2 separate regions of the Homo sapiens genome follow, and region 1 is linked to region 2. A link means that fine-mapping ties the variant in region 2 to the expression of a gene that starts in the linked region. Tissue or cell type: whole blood. Region 2 holds a variant in brackets; the other region holds the start of a gene. All regions are shown on one strand. Distances are between the middles of the regions.

Region 1 (8,000 bases), 33 kb after region 2:
GTTGAGGGGGAGGAGCAGTGTTGAAAAGTTAGCCATCGTGGATCTGAGGAAATCCTGCTGCTGTGGGCTCACACCTGCTGTGCTGAGTGGATTAGCGGTCACCCCAGAGATGCCTCACATCTGGGAACCCAGCCCTCTCTGCCCCCACTACCTCAGGCTTTTCAAGAACAGACCCACTCAGAGTTAATGGTGGGTACCAGCTTTGCAGGGAGACAGAATAGGGGCCACTGCCAACTCCATCGCTTAATGTTAATATTAACAGCAATAGTAGCAACAGAACCGACTGGAGAAGGCTTTCTGTTTGGTGGGCACCACTGAAGCACCAACATGCATGGTTGAATCCTCACAGTAGCTCAGAGAGGCTCTCCCAGGCTGTGTGCCCTCAGGCAAATTAGCCCCTTGGAGCTTTAGTTTCCCTCTCTAAAAGGGAGGTGAAAAGAAACTCTATCTCATAGGGCTGTTGTGTGGATTCAGTGGGAAGATGCCCATGAGTGTTTCGCACCCAGCGGGGCTCCAGCAATGGCAGCTGTTATTTAGTTTGCAGGAGCCCAGGATCCCAAGTGTCAGAGGCAAGCAGAGCTAGGAGTTGAGGAGAGGGATGCAAGGGCTGAACCATTTGGGGCAAATCCTAATTCTGGGAATGGAAGTCCTGACTGAGGGGCAATAGGGACCCGCATCCTCAATGCCCAGAGCAGACACATCATGGCCCTTCCCACACGGGATTAGTCCTGAGGCTTAGCTTCTCTCCAGGCAGAGGGAGGGGAGAACGGCAAAGGGCCCCACCCACTGTGCCTTCAGAGTAGAAGCATGTCAGCCCCCTCCACCCTCACCCCCACCTCCTGCCTGTAGCAGGAGCCATGCCATTCTCTGGAGAGAGATGTGGGCAGGTGGAGGCGTGAGGACAAAAACAAAAGTGGCTGGAAGAGGAGCCCAGAATAAAGACCGGATTCTGCCATCATCTTGTCCTATGGGGTGGGGGACTCTACCTGCTCAGGGGGCCGGGGCATGCTCTCCAGGCTCTGCACCCTCGCCTGCACCTCCTGCATGCTCTCCTGTAGTGCTCGAACTGTCCCCAGCAGCCACACGTCCAACTCCTGGGGCCCCGGCGGGCTGCCCCGCAACCCCTCTGCGGAGCACAGACACACAGGGAAGGGGGCTCAGGAGGCAATTCAGCTCTGGGCAGGGTGGGGGCAGGCTGGGGCAAGCCCAGGAAAGTGTAGGAGTGGAACCCAGTCGCTGTACCAAGTGTGATTCTTGCAAAGTCCATCTATGTAGCTGAGTAATGGGCTGCTATGGGTTTAATCCCAGCATGGCCGCTTATGACACAGATCAAGTCATTACCTTTTTTTTTTTTTTTTTAGACAGTCTTGCTCTGTTGCCCAGGCTGGAGTGCAGTGGCACAATGACCTCGGCTCACTGCAACCTCCGCCTCCTGGATTCAAGCGATTCTCCTGCCTCAGCCTCCCGAATACCTGGGATTATAGGTGCCCACCACACCCGGCTAATATTTGTATTTTTAATACAGACAGGGTTTCACCATGTTGGCCAGGCTGGTCTCAAACTCCTGACCTCAGGTGATCTGCCTGCCTTGGCCTCCCAAAGTGCTGGGATTACAGGCGTGAGCCATCGTGCCCGGCCAAAGTCATTAACTTCTCTGGGCATCATTTTGTCATCTAAAAATTAGGAGAAGATGTCATTTCTCTCACAGGGCTGCTTGCTCAGAGGAAAAAAGGAGAAACTTTTCAAAATGTCCATACAGGACCTGACACACAACAGGAGTTCTAGAAGGGAAGAGGGCAGAACTCATTGTCTTCTGAGATTTCCAAACGGGGGAGTCCAGAGAATATGGATGACTTCCTGAGGCTGTGCAGCTGTAGGTGGGAGAACTGGGCTAGGACTCCCATCCCGCTGGCCTTACTCAGGACCTGCAGAGGGTGCAGACTCCTGGGTGCCCTTTGGGGAGAGGAGGGAGGGCGGGGACTTTGCCCATCCAGGCAGGTATCTGGCTGGTTGGCAGCCCTTCCTGGACAGAGGCTTCTCGCTCAGTGCCCAGCAATGGACTTTCAACTCTGCCCTAGGAAGGCAGCCAAGAGAAAGCCTGGGGTGCCAGGACCACGGGAAAGGGCAGAAGTGGGTGAGAGGTTGGGTAGGAGCTCACCTTTCTTTGTGGGGGGCACGGGGCTGTTCCTGGGATCACGCTTTCCTCCAGATGCTGCCCGCTGCTCTGTCCAAACCTGCTGAGATGAGTCAGAGAGCTGAGGGTGGGAGTGGGAGCACAGTGGGGTGGGAAAAGGGGGGAATGGGGACTGGGCTCACCAGCTCAGGCTCCAGCTGCTCCAGGGAATCACAGAAAACCTCGGAGTCCAGGTCCCTGGGTGAATGGGACTCTGTGGAGGGGTTGGTAGAGTTACTGCCCAGAGGGAAGCTGTGGAGGGAGAGCAGGAGTGTGCACTGGGCAGAAGCACCTGTTTAGGAGACACTAGAGATACGAGGCACTAGAGATATCAACACCTGAGGCACAGATGGGCGCCAGAAGCAAGGCCCTGGAACAGGAATCCTAGACCCCGGTCCCCACCTTTGGGAGCACAGGAAGTCTCAGTGTCTGTGGAGGGCACAGCGTGGCATCCAGCCTTCTCCCCTCCAGCCCTCCCCCAGCCTGAGTTTGGTCCACCCCTCCTGCTCAAGCACTAACCTGGGCTTGGGGGTGCCGGTTCCTTGGGGAGGCAGGGAGGCTCTGAAACAGCCCCAACATCTCCATTCACAACCTGCTCTTTCCAACCTGCCAAGACACAGCACCCAGAGGTGGGCCTGGGGAGAGGCTGGCACCTCCCAGTGTGATCAAGCCCCTACTCGTGATGAGCCGTGGATGCTGCCTGGGATCCACCTCTCGGGGGCTTGGGGGCCCTAACAGGGATGTCGCCTGGAGCCCTCTGCCCCCAGCCCACCTCAGCCTAGACCTAAGACGGTTCACTCAGCACTTTTGGAGCTCCCAGCCTGGGAGTCTGACCTGTGACCCTTCTCAGGAAGGTCTCTGGGGGCCTCGGCATGTCAGGGATCACCTGGTACAGGGGCTCGAAGTAACCAAACATGTCCTCTGCCACCTCACCCAGGGGCACTGTGTCGATCACCTGTAGGGGAGGGGGTCTGTTGGGGACGGAGTGGCCTCCTGTCCCTTCCTCCCTGCTCCTGCCCTGTCACACACCTCCACCCTGTGCCCAGTCAGGGGCCAAAGATAGGCAGGGTTGGGGGTAACATGAAGGTGGTGATTCCCATGAGGGGGTCCATGTGTAGGAAACGTAGTGGGGGTCAGAACTGGAAGGGTGAGGCCACCTGGCCAGGAGCCTGGGGACAGAGAACCTGCAGCCCTTACCTTCTGTGCCACCAGTTTCATTTCAGTGATGTAGGCAGACATGGCCTCCTCCCTGCTCATCTTGCCCAGACTGTTCCAGGCGTCCCTGGGGGCAGAGGGCTGTGAGAGGGCTGCTTGACAGCTGAGGCTTGTCTGCCCAGCCAGCAGGGAGCTCACCACTTATATCGTCCAATGGGGTCCCAGAACCCGGGCCGGGGGACCAGGCAGGGCCCCATGGTGGCCTGCTTGTAGTAACTGTAGAATCGCAGCATCTCTTCATAGGAGGGGCGGTAAGAACCTGGGCAGAGAGTTGGGAAGCCAGGGCAAAGCATCACTCCCAGCTCCAAGGGGCGGAGGGGCGGGAGAACCCTGCTTGGAAAGGGCAGAGGTGGTGATGGGTCCCACCCAGGGCATCTGGACTAGGATAGGAAGCGGAGGGAACCCCCAGGACAGCCCAGGCAGGGGCTTGTCTGCAAAAACTGCAGTGATCAGGACCATTCTTTCTTCAGAGTCAGACCCCAGGCGTCCTGAATGCGAGTCCAAATGCGAGTCCCCGCAGCCTCACCGTTCTTGGGCAGGTTCTGGATGACGCTCACTGCAGCCTGGAACTGTTTCTGGCAGTCGGGCTCTGGGCTTTCTTTCTCGGTGCCCATGCTGCTGCGAGCCCTGGGGCCCTACTTTTGAGCGACTCTGCAAGAAGCAGCCTTCGTGTGAGGGGGCCTCCAGGGTCCCCCCGGCACCATAAGCCAAGGATTCACTTCCCAGAGGGGCAAACTAAGCTCTTTAGAGGCCTCAGACACCCTGGGAGGTCAGAAGTTGTGGTTGAGGAGCCTCCTTTTCCTACCTCAAGGCAGTGTGGTGGGGTCAGGGTCGCCAGGTGGCGAGGCAGGTGGCGAGGGCCTCAGTGCCAGATGTGTCCGTCCCCAGATGCGCCTCCTTTAGGTGCACATCTCCAACTCCCGAACAGGTGGAGAAACAAGATAGGAGTACTCAGGGCGGGGCGAACAGTCTCCCACCCTGGCCGCCTGCACCTTGGCCCAGCGTGTGCCCCGCGGCGCCCACTGCCAGGACACCTGGGTCCTCTCTCGCCACCACCCCGCGGCTTCCTACTGACCCCGGGGTCCAGCAGGGCCGGGATGGCGACGCAGATCGAGGGGGGGAATTTAGGCCAATGAGAGAGCCTGTTTCACATTCGGCTTACCTACCTCAACCATTCAGCACAGCTCTTTCAAGATCATGCAAATAGTTTCTCAGAGCCTTTCCCAATCAGGCGGGGCTTAATCGAAGGGTCGGACTTCCCAGCCCGGGATGGCCAAGGCGGGCGGCAGCGCCCCCTGGTGCACATAGTGAAAGGTCGTGGCGTCCTAGCGCCCCCTGGTGGAAATCCGCATCTGTTCGCTGATATCCAGGCCTGGCCGATCCGAGGCAACCCACTCAGCTCTCTAGACACTTAGGCACTGGGGATTAAAAAAAGTCATGTCCTGTGGTCAGGTGTTCTAGAGGAAGGACATCACAGCTCAGTTTTGGAAGATGGTCGGGCACGGTGGCTCATGCCTGTAATCCCAGAACTTTGGGAGGCCAAGGCGGGCGGATCACCTGAGGTCAGGAGTTCGAGACCAGCCGGGCCAACATAGTGAAACCCCATCTCTACTAAAAATACACAAATTAGCCGGGCGTGGTGGCGCGCGCCTGTAATCCCAGCTACACGGGAGGCTGAGGCAGGAGAATCGCTTGAACCCGGGAGGTGGAGATTGCAGTGAGCCAAGATTGCCCCACTGCACTCCAGCCTGGGCGAGAGTGAGACTCCATCTCAAAAAAAAAAAAAGAGTAAGCAAAATGGACATCGCAGAATGATGGTTACCAGAGGCTGGGAAGGGTACTGGGGAGGGGGGGAAATGGGTACAAAAATACAGTTAGAATGAATGAGATCCAGTGTTCGGTAGCACAATACAACGATTATAGTTACCAATAATTTATTGTATCTTTTTATTTTGTTTATTTTATTTTATTTATTTATTTTTTTGAGACGGAGTCTCACTCTCTCCCGGGCTGGAGTGCAGTGGCGTGATCTCGGCTCACTGCAATCTCCGCCTCCCGGGTTCACGCCATTCTCCTGCCTCAGCCTCCCGAGCAACTGGGATTACAGGCGCTCGCCACCACGCCCAGCTAATTTTTTGTATTTTTTAGTAGAGACGGGGTTTCACCATATTAGCCAGGATGGTCTCGATCTCCTGACCTCGTGATCCGCCGACCTCGGCCTCCCAAAGTGTTGGGATTACAGGCGTGAGCCACCGCGCCCGGCCTATTGTATCTTTTTAAATTAATTATTTTAAAAACAATTTTTGTAGAGGCAGAAGTCTCATTATGTTGCCCAGGCTGGTCTTCATTCAATACCTGGCCTCAAGTGATCATCCCACCTCTGCCTCCCAAAGTGCTGGGATTACAGGCGTGAGCCACCGCATCCGGCCAATTTATTGTATATTTCAAAATAACTGGGCGGGAAGTGGTGGCTCAGGCCTGTAGTCCCAACACTTTGGGAGGCCAAGGCAAGAGAATTGCTTTGAGGCTGCAGTGAGCTATGATCATGCCACTGCACTCCACCCTGGGCAACCAAGTAGTGAGACCTTGTCTCTAATAAACAAATAAAATACAAATACAAATAACTAAAAGCGGAATTGGAATGTTCCTAATACAAAGGAATGATAAATGCTTGAGGTGATGGTTACTTCAATTACCTTGATTTGATCATTACACATTTTATACCTGTATCAAAACATTACATGCCTCTCCATAATTCTCTGCAACTATTAAGTGTCCATAACAATTAAAAGAAATGTAGACTTAGCCTATCCAACAACAAGAATAACAAAAGGGTAAACCAGGAGAATAAGGAAGGTTGTTTCTGGAGGAAGGAACGGCAGGATCAAAAGCACAAAGGCGAATACGATAATCAAGAAGAAAATTCAGGGCCGGGCGCGGTGGCTCACGCCTGTAATCCCAGCACTTTGGGAGGCCGAGGCGGGCGGATCACGAGGTCAGGAGATCGAGACCATCCCGGCTAAAACGGTGAAACCCCGTCTCTACTAAAAATACAAAAAATTAGCCGGGCGTAGTGGCGGGCGCCTGTAGTCCCAGCTACTTGGGAGGCTGAGGCAGGAGAATGGCGTGAACCCGGGAGGCGGAGCTTGCAGTGAGCCGAGATCCCGCCACTGCACTCCAGCCTGGGCGACGGAGCGAGACTCCGTCTCAAAAAAAAAAAAAAAAAAAAAAAAAAAAAGAAAATTCAGGACCCCAGAGTGGCGTAGGGACCCAAGCCAGTGTGCAGAATCTCTGGGCCTGGGAGATCTGAGGATGGGGTAGAGCAGGGCAAGTAGGTGGCAAATCAGGCCCTGAGCACTAGCCTCTCTGTAGGATGCCACGCCGCTGGCCGCCGCAAAGTGGCGGTGTGCGCCCATGTCTCTGCCGGACCCAGGCCACCGGCCGCAGAAACGCTGCCACCTGGACGTCCCCCACTTCGCGCACGCACTCTGGTGCTTGCATATAAATAGTAAGTGCACACCCGACTCGGCCACCAGAACCTGCACACGGATGCCCACCCACGGGTTGACGTCGCGGACAACTACACCGCGGGTGCCGGGCTGGGGTGCCGGCCTGTCCAAGCCTCGAACCCAGAACCAGTTGCTGGGGACTCCAGGCTCGGCTCCGCCTCACGCTCCCCAGGTCCGTCAGCTCCGAGACTGTGGCTCTCCGAGGGGGCAGCACCTGGCCTGGCACAGGGAGGTTAATCCTATGACGTCACTGCCAACCTCCCCACCCCCATGCCCATCCCTTCGGGTTCGCGCTGCCCCGAGCGGCTCAGCTCCCGGGGTTCTGCCTTCGCTCCCGGCCCTGCGTCCTGTCCCGGCTCTGGTTCCCTGCTGAGGCCTGCGGCGCGACGGGGACGCGGAAGGGAAGGAGGAGGGGGTCCTGCGTCAGCCTCGAGTCAGGGCCCCCGGGAAGGAGAGGGTGTCTGTGCCAGAGGATGGCCCTCGTCCCCGGTGCCGGCTCCCACCCCCAGCCCCGCAGCATGGGGGCTCTAGTCACCCTTGCGGCCAAGATCAGAGGCTCGCCCGGACTAAGGGGAGACGGACTCACGAGCAGGGGCGAGCGCTGAGGCTCCGGGCTTCCAGGCCACCGCCTGGCCCCGCCCTCGCACCGCCCCGGCCCCGCCCCCTTCCCTTCCCGCCCCGCCCCGCCCCACCTCCTGCTGCCTCCTCCGACTCCCTCCCGCGCCGCTAAGTTTCTTCGCTCGCCGCCTCGCTCAGAGCCGGGGCCGGGCCAGAGCGGCGCCCCGCTGCCCTGTCCCCGCGTGCAGACCCCGGGCCCGGCCCCGGCCCCCCGCCAAGCCATGCTGTGCGGCCGCTGGAGGCGTTGCCGCCGCCCGCCCGAGGAGCCCCCGGTGGCCGCCCAGGTCGCAGCCCAAGTCGCGGCGCCGGTCGCTCTCCCGTCCCCGCCGACTCCCTCCGATGGCGGCACCAAGAGGCCCGGGCTGCGGGCGCTGAAGAAGATGGGTCAGTGACGGGCAAGGGGCGGTGGGGTGGGCGCGGACCGTTCCCAGAGGCCCAGTCTGGGGCGCTCCAGGGAGCAGTTCGTGGATTCCCCAGGCTGCACG
Region 2 (8,000 bases):
CTTGCAGAGGGCAGCACCCCCTGGGGCCTGGGGTGGGGGAAGGGATTGGGTGAGCACCATGGGCTCCTTTGTCAGACCCAGGAAGGAGAGTGGGGGCAGCTACCGGAAGTAGGGGGATGAGAAGCTCCCTCCGGAATGTATGCCCCCCTCTCCCCTCCCCTCTCCTCCCCTCCCCACATGCACAGCCCCTGCACATGCTCAGTGTGCCCATGAATTGGGTTGGTTGGGGGAGGGCACTGACTGGCACCCCCACTTAAAGGGCCAGTGCCACACTTGCCTGTTCCCAACAAGGGCAATGGGACCTGGCCACCTTTCCCCCCAATACCGTTACTTCCCTTTGGACCCCCTCCCCCCACTCCCTGGCAGCTTCTTCCTGCCCCAGCCCACCAATCTCTGCCTACCCCTCTCCCTCATACTCTGACCCTATTGCAGGCAGGGTCTGTCCACTGGGCACAGGAGTTTCCACCTGGGGTCGGGCAGTTCCTGCCGGGGAAGAAAGAGGGATCCTAAGACAGGCTGGGCAGGGGTGGTGGGAGGCTTCAACAGTCACTCCCATGAAACATATGTTCTCTGCGCTTCCCTTCCCCGGCCCAGTTGACCAAGAGGGTCCCAGAAAGCACAGGGCGTGAGGGCAGCTGTGGAAAGGCCCAGGGAGGCTGTGTCCAAGCCCAACTTCCCCAGCTAGGGCGTGTGATGTGGGGGTGGGGGTGTCTTGTAAACTGGAGCTTCCACCATTGCAGTAGGCGGAGTGGAGGCCCAGGCTTCAAGACCAAGCAGCAGGTGTGGGAACAACTGGAAGCAGCGAAGGGGGCGGGGCACCGAGGGACCCAGGCCTGGCTCCCACCCACAGCTGAGCCGGTTCTCTCCAGTGCTAAGCCCCAGCTCTGGCCCCAGGACGATCTCCTCCCTGCACACCCCTTACCCAGGAATCAGGGAGCCAGACAGGGGGAGGGGCAGACAGGGACCCTTTTCACGGACCCCTCCCATTTGGGTTCAGGCCCTCCCACACTCCCGGCTAGCATCCTCTCCTTTGTTCTCTTCTTGCCCCACCCGCCCTCCAGCGGGGTGAGGTGGGGGTGCGGGAATTAACCCACCGAGGTGCTGCCCTATTTGCGCCCTTCAGCCTTTTACGTGTAAGGGGGATGTTGGAGGAGCAGCTGGCAGCTTCCCTGCCTCCAGGCTCCTCAGCTTCTGGGCCAAGAAAGGCCAAACTCTTCACCTGCCCCTCCCTGGCATAACCAGCCCACAATGAGCACCCAGCACCCTCACCCACACCCCTCCCCCGACACTCCAGCAGCCCTCTGGAATCTTCTCTCACCTCCTAGACACACACACACAGAGGCACCTCCGGGTAAACAACCTTTGTCCACCTTTGTCCCAGGCCTCCTCTCTCCCTCGGGCTCCATGCTGAGGAATGCAGCTGGGAGGCTGCCAGCAAATGCCAAGGGGCCTCTGGGTCCCAGGCTAGCACCCCACAGCACCCCACAGGGGCAGGCAGGCCTCCAGAGGCTCTCCTGGAATCCAAAAAGCCACTTCCTCGCTAAGCCTCCGGTTTCCCGTCTGCAAAGTGGCGATGATCATTCCTGCTGCCCTTCCTGACTGAGCTGTCTGAGGACCCAGGGTTCCAGGGGCAGGTCTCCCAGGATGAGATTTTGCTTTCTCTTGAAACCCATGCGTTCCTAGAATCTGTTCTGTGTTTCATTGTAGGAGGCTCTGGCCAGGCCTGGGTGTGGCAGGATAGAAATGAAAGTTGTCCTGGCAACACACAAGATTTCATCAACATTTCCATCCCCAGCAGCTCCTGGGCCAAGCCTCATCTTGCCCAGTGTGGCCTGTCAAGATGACGGCCTGGAAGAGAAGCCAGACTGGGCAGCCAGGCCTCTGCCCCTCCCCTTGCCTGGTGGCACAGCCAGCACTGGCTCACTGGTGAGTTGACTAATTTCCTCCGCCACCATTAGTTGTCCATGTTCATTGCTGCCTGACACCCAACACCAGTCTGCAAGGGCACCAGGAGGGGATGGAAGAGACAGGGTGTCTGGGGAAGGGTGGGTCTGAGTGCGAGGGGGTGGGTGAGCTTGTCTCAGAGCCTGACGCTGGCTGGTGGTATCTGCGTTACCCAGGCTGACCCAGCTCTCTCTGATGCAGACAGGCGAGGGCCTCACACACTTCAGAGAATTCACACCCACATGATGAGGCTGAGAGGAGCAGGACGCACAGACACATGGCAGGCACCAGGAGAGCCAGGCTGCTCTGCTCTGCTGGCGATCCATGTGCTGTCCCCCTCTGTCTCTTGACTTTATTTTCCATCAGGAGAGCGCCTCCCTTATTACCCTTGGGAGGTAAGGGACAAACACAAACACATGATGACTAACCTCAGGCCCAACCCCCTGCAGAGAGGGGTCAGGGTTGGGGGCTGTCAAGAACAAGGAGGCACAAGGCACCCAGAACCCGTCTAGTCCAGCCTTTAAACTGTGGGGAGAATACAGGGAGCTCAGGAGCAAACTCTGAAGGAACCCCTGGGCCTGGGTCTTCTCCGAAAACCCCCGTTCTCTCCTCCAGGGAAAGCTCACAACTCCTCACAGCGATCTGGTATCTTGAGCGTCAGTTTCTGGCCGAAACTGGGGGCTCCTGACTGAACTCCCTCCCACCTAGAAAACCTTCTGTGCAGTCTGATTGCTCCAACACCCACAGAGCAGGATTCAGGTATCCCGGAGACCTTGGGAGGTCCCCATCCAGAGGTCTGCTGTCCTGCCAGGCTTGGGGCAGCAGGGACTGGGACCCCACTCAGACCTCTCTGGGGCAAATGTTTTGGTTCTCACAACAGCCCTAGTGAAATCAATCCTAGATACTCCCATTTGGTCCCACCAAGGCCATTTAATTTCTCTGTAAAGGGTAAGATGACACAAAAGAGCCAACTATGGAAACGGTGAGGTGGGAGTCTGAACCGATTTAGCTGTTCTCAGGGCGCACAGGGTGTTGACGGTGGTTTTCATCTGCCACCTGCCTCCTTGAGACCCAGCTGGCCTGAGTGTGCACGAAATGGGACCTTCTCCTTGGGTCCACCAGGCTGGGAGGCACCCCTAGGTACCCGGCTCCTCATCACAGCGGCAGCCCTCTCGGTTCCACATCTGGTTCTCCTGACGAAGCCGCTGGTTTTCGGTCCGGAGCCTCTGGACCTCGGCAGCCAGCTCCTCCACCTGGCGGCAGGACTGCTGGCCGGTGCACGCCTGCAGCTGCTGCAGCCTCCTAGTCTCCTCCTCCGCCTGCGACAGCCGCTTCTCCAGCTCCAGGTAGTCTCGCACCAGCTCCTGCTTGCTGCGGCCCTGCAGGCTCTCGGTGTGGAAGCGTTCGTAAGTCTCAGAGAAGTCCTTCCGCTGGAACTCACCGTGCGCTCGGCCCCGCCCATCACTGTCCCCGGCCTCACTCTCCCCACTGGAACCTGGGTGGGAGATCCCATGGGGCACATCCAAGTTGGGCTCCTCCGGGTCCCTGTCATTCATCAGGAACTGGGTGGTGTTGTAGGGGGCCACGGGCTGGCCTTTGGCGAACATCTCTTCGCGGACCCGGGAGGCCCTCTGGCTCTGCCTCTCATCCCGCTGTTGTTTCTCAGCCCAGCTCAGCTCCAGGTAGGGTCGCCAGTGCCTTTTGCGCTTCGATGGCCGCCGACGGTGTTTCTTCCGGGCCAGCACAGCCTCCGCTGAGCAGCCCCCTGGGCTCTGGGTCCGGGGACTCCTACTGTTCCAGCCCAGGCCACCGACAGCCCCAGCAAGATCTTCATCCTCTGAGTGGCTCTCCATCCGCGGTGTCAGGGGCAGGGAACCACCAGAGTCATGACGCTCAGGGGGTGTTTGGGGGCTCCCCGGGGCACCAGAGGTCTAAAGAGAGGGAGGAGGAAGAAGGATGGATCAGACAGCCTGTCCTTGGAGGTGGAACCTTTCCCTCTCTACCTAGCCTGAAGCCTACCTTCCTACACTCAGCTAACTTGGTCACTCTTAGCCCCTCAACCTTTTGGAACCATTTGTTTACAAAGAGACCTGTCTACTGTCTGTCCCCCAACCTTCCCCAAGTAAACTCATGGTGAGAGCAGGAATTTTGCCTGTGTGTTTCACTCTGTAATTTCAATGCCTAGAATAATACCTGGCACTGAGTAGGAGTTCCATAAATACTGTCCAAATGAGTAAAGTAGGAGAAGAAGAAAACTGGGATAGAAGGTGGATCTTGATGCATTTGCTTGATCAGAAGCCCAAATGGCACCGGCTCTTCCCTCTTCCCAGAAAACCTGACTTTCAAACACCACTGGCTTCATGGGCAGGTGACCTGTGAAGTCCCACAGAGGCCCCACACCTGGCTTCATGCTGTCCTTCTCTTAAACATGTTATTCAAAAAAAAAAAAAACCTTATTTTATTTCATTTTTTGAGATGGAGTCTCGCTCTGTCACCCAGGCTGGAGTGCAGTGGTGCAATCTCGGCTCACTGTAACCTCTGCCTCCGGAATTCTCCAGCCTCAGCCTCCCGCGTAGCTGGGATCACAGGCACGTGCCACCACGCCTGGCTAATTTTTTGTATTTTTAGTAGAGACAGGGTTTCACCATGTTGGCCAGCCTAGTCTCAAACTCCTGACCTCAGGTGATCCACCCGCCTCGGCCTCCCAAAGTGCTGAGATTACAGGTGTGAGCCACCGCGCAAGGCCTAAAATAAGTTTTTTAGGCTCAGCATGGTGGCTCAGGCCTGTAATCCCAGCACTTTGGGAGGCCGAGGTGGGCGGATCACCTGAGGTCAGGAGTTCGAGACTAGGATGGCCAACATGGTGAAACCCTATGTCTACGAAAAATACAAAAATAAGCCGGGCGTGGT[G/C]GCACGTGCCTGTGATCCCAGCTATGCAGGAGGCTGAGGCTGGAGAATGTGGGCGGCGGAAGTTGCAGTGAGCCAAGATTACACCACTGCACTCCAGCCTGGGTGACAGAGCGAGACTCCATCTCAAAAACAAACAAACAGGCCGGGCGAGGTGGCTCACACCTGTAATCCCAGCACTTTGGGAGGCCAAGATGGGTGAATCACGAGGTCAGGAGATCGAGACTATCCTAGTTAATGTGGTGAAACCCCATCTCTACTAAAAATACAAAAAAAATTAGCTGGGTGTGATGGCGGGCGCCTGTAGTCCCAGCTAGTCGGGACGCGGAGCTTGCAGTGAGCTGAGATCGCGCCACTGCACTTCAGCCTGGGCGACAGAGTGAGACTCCATCTCGAAACAAACAAACAAACAAACAAACAAAAAAGACTCTTATTTTTAGAGACAGGGTCTTACTCTGTTGCCCAGGCAAGAATGCAGTGAGGTGCAATAATAACTCCCTGCAGCCTCAAACTCCTAGACTCAAGCAATCCTCTTGCCTTAGCCTCTCAAGTAACTGGATCTACAGGCATGCGCCACCACACCTGGCCACTGTCTTTAACTTTTTAATAATTTTTGAATAAGGTGCCCTTTTGCACTGGGCCCCACAAATTATGCAGCTGATCCTGCTTCCAGCTATTTGCATGGCTTTTTTTTCATCTTTTTTTTTGTGTGTGTGTGAGAGTCTTGCTCTGTTGCCCAGGCTGGAGTGCAGTGTTGCCATCTCAGCTCACTGCAACCTCCGCCTTCCAGGTTCAAGCGATTCTCCTGCCTCAGCCTCCTGAGTAGCTGGGACTACAGGCGTGTACCACCATGCCAGGCTAATTTTAGTATTTTTAGTACAGATGGGGTTTCACCATGTTGGCCAGGCTGGTGTGGAACTCCTGACCTCAAGTAATCTGCCCACCTTGGCCTCCCAAAGTGCTGGGATTATAGGCATGAGCCACTGCACCTGGGCTTTTTTTTTTTTTTTTTTTGAGACAGAGTCTTGCTCTGTCACCCAGGCTGGAGTGCAGTGGCCCGACCTCAGCTCACTGCAACCTCCACCTCCCAGGTTCAAGCGATTATCCTGCCTCAGCCTCCAGAGTAGCTGGGATCACAGGTGCCCACTACCATGCCCAGCTAATTTTTTGTATTTTTAGTAGAGATGGGGTTTCACCATGTTGGCCAGGCTGGTCTCAAACTCCTGACATCAAGTGATCCACCCGCCTCGGCCTCCCAAAGTACTGGGATTACAGGTGTGAGCCACCACTGCCAGCTACCTTTTTTCATCTTTTAGAGCTTAGTTCCAATGTCACTTCCTTAGGGAGCCCCTCCTTGACCACCCTACCTAATGTAGACTCCCCCATCTCGCCTCCCTAGTGATTCTATCACATCACACAGTTAGCACATAGCATTTAGCATATGGCCATTTAACATCTGTCTTCCTCATGTGAGAACGCATCTCGTCTGTCTGTCCAAGTCACCACTATATTCCTATGCACAGCACAAGGGCAGTGCTCAGTAAATATCTGTTAAGTGGACTAAAGATTATAGGATAGGGAGATCCAAAAGATATTGGGAAATAAGACTTACGGCCGGGTGTAGTGGCTCACGCTGGTAATCCTAGCACTTTGGGAGGCCAAGGAGGGTGGATTGCTCAAGCCCAGGAGTTCAAGACCAGCCTGGGCAACATGGCGAAACCCCATCTCTACCAAAAATTACAAAAAATTAGCCAGGCATGGTGGTGAGCACCTGTAATCCCAGCTGCTTGGGAGGCTGAAGTGGGAGGATCACTTGAGTCCAGAAGGTTGAGGCTGCAGTGAGCTGTGATTGCGCCACTGCGCTCCAGCCTGAGTGACAGAGCTGGAGTCTCAAAAAAAAGACTCCCCTTCTCTATCCTTCTGGCATAAAGAAGATGCAGCGGGCCGGGCGTGGTGGCTCACGCCTGTAATCCCAGCACTTTGGGAGGCCAAGGCAGGTAGATCACCTGAGTTCAGGAGTTTGAGACCAGCCTGACCAACATGGCCAAACCCCGTCTCTACTAAAAATACAAAAAAATTGGCCGGGTGTGGTGGCACGCACCTGTAATCCCAGCTACTTGGGAGGCTGAGGTAGGAGAATCGCTTGAACCTGGGAGGCGGAGGTTGCAGTGAGGCGAGATCACGCCACTGCACTCCAGCCTGGGCAACAGAGTAAGACTCTGGCTCAAAAAATAAAATAAAATAATTAAATTAAATTAAATTAAATTAAAAAATAAAATAAAATAAAATGATGGAACATATTTATTCCAGGCAGAAGTTGGTAGGTGGTATCACTCTCCAATATGAATGGCAGGAAAGAGATCCTCTCCAAAGAGAGGGAGGGTCAGCCTCCAGTCTGCAGTGAGAGAGTTCCAGAACTTATCTAAGAGGTATAAAGGCTGTCAAGAGAGTGTATGTTCAGGGCATCTGTTTATCTCTGTTGTGGGAAGGGTGGGAGTACTGGGTGTGGGAGATGGGAAATGAATTGCTCTAAGTTTGTGGTTTGGGCAATTTCTAATAATAACCACTACCACTGGTATGTTGTTGAATAATATGCAACGCAGTTCAGAGACATGTGAGCGTGGTCCATGCACACAGGGTGTGTACTGAGGAATGTGGTGTATGCGCGGCCCTTAAGAGCCAGGCATATGTCATGTGTGTTTTGCAGACCCCGAAGAGAATTTCAGGGAAAAGGAGGTATGTCAGGGTGTGTATGTGTGTGGGGTGTGTACGTATGTGGAGTTTGTTGTGTTACTTCACCTGCAGGGAGATCACGAAATAAAAGCAATAGCCCTTGTCTCCACCAGTGGCTTGGGCCAAATAAGACAGAGCTGTTGCCCCAGCTGGGACAGGCAAGGCCACTGGGATGCCAAGGCATGGTGGCTTGTTGGTGTGCACAATCAGTCACATGCTCCCAGCCCTCAGTAGAAGTGCCCTATTGATCCTCCACCCTCACCCAAGCGAGCCCAGCCCCCTAGCCCTACCTGCTGCCTCCCTCCTGAAGACTTGGCCCTCTACCACCATGACCACTACTGTAGATAAGCTGTGTGACCTGGCTGAACATTGTAGCCCTGACATGTCATGAATTCCGAATTCAGTCAATCCAGAAA

Evidence for each region. PIP is the estimated chance that this variant, and not a neighbour inherited with it, causes the effect.
Region 1: ACBD4 starts here. The variant in region 2 is fine-mapped to the expression of ACBD4 in whole blood (TOPMed, PIP above 0.99).

What each region holds. Positions count from the first base shown.
Region 1 is chr17:45,132,147-45,140,146 of GRCh38, reverse strand. ACBD4 (acyl-CoA binding domain containing 4) reads right to left here and starts at 4,460. Exons shown (of 10, transcript NM_001135705.3): 1 at 4,194-4,460; 2 at 3,915-4,039; 3 at 3,527-3,647; 4 at 3,371-3,455; 5 at 3,008-3,128; 6 at 2,693-2,779; 7 at 2,317-2,387; 8 at 2,159-2,234; 9 at 987-1,126. The coding sequence starts at 4,002. PLCD3 (phospholipase C delta 3) reads left to right here and starts at 7,632. Exons shown (of 15, transcript NM_133373.5): 1 at 7,632-7,899. The coding sequence starts at 7,737. RefSeq lists an enhancer at 6,839-6,908 and silencers at 7,379-7,598, 7,699-7,828.
Region 2 is chr17:45,164,890-45,172,889 of GRCh38, reverse strand. HEXIM2 (HEXIM P-TEFb complex subunit 2) reads right to left here. Exons shown (of 4, transcript NM_001303441.2): 4 at 2,855-3,875. The coding sequence ends at 3,081. It overlaps HEXIM2-AS2 (HEXIM2 antisense RNA 2), which reads left to right and starts at 1,405. Exons shown (of 2, transcript NR_135646.1): 1 at 1,405-1,926; 2 at 2,560-4,085. RefSeq lists enhancers at 1-596, 1,174-1,468, 1,555-2,513 and a silencer at 714-1,008. The variant G/C (reference allele first, on the strand shown) is at 4,855.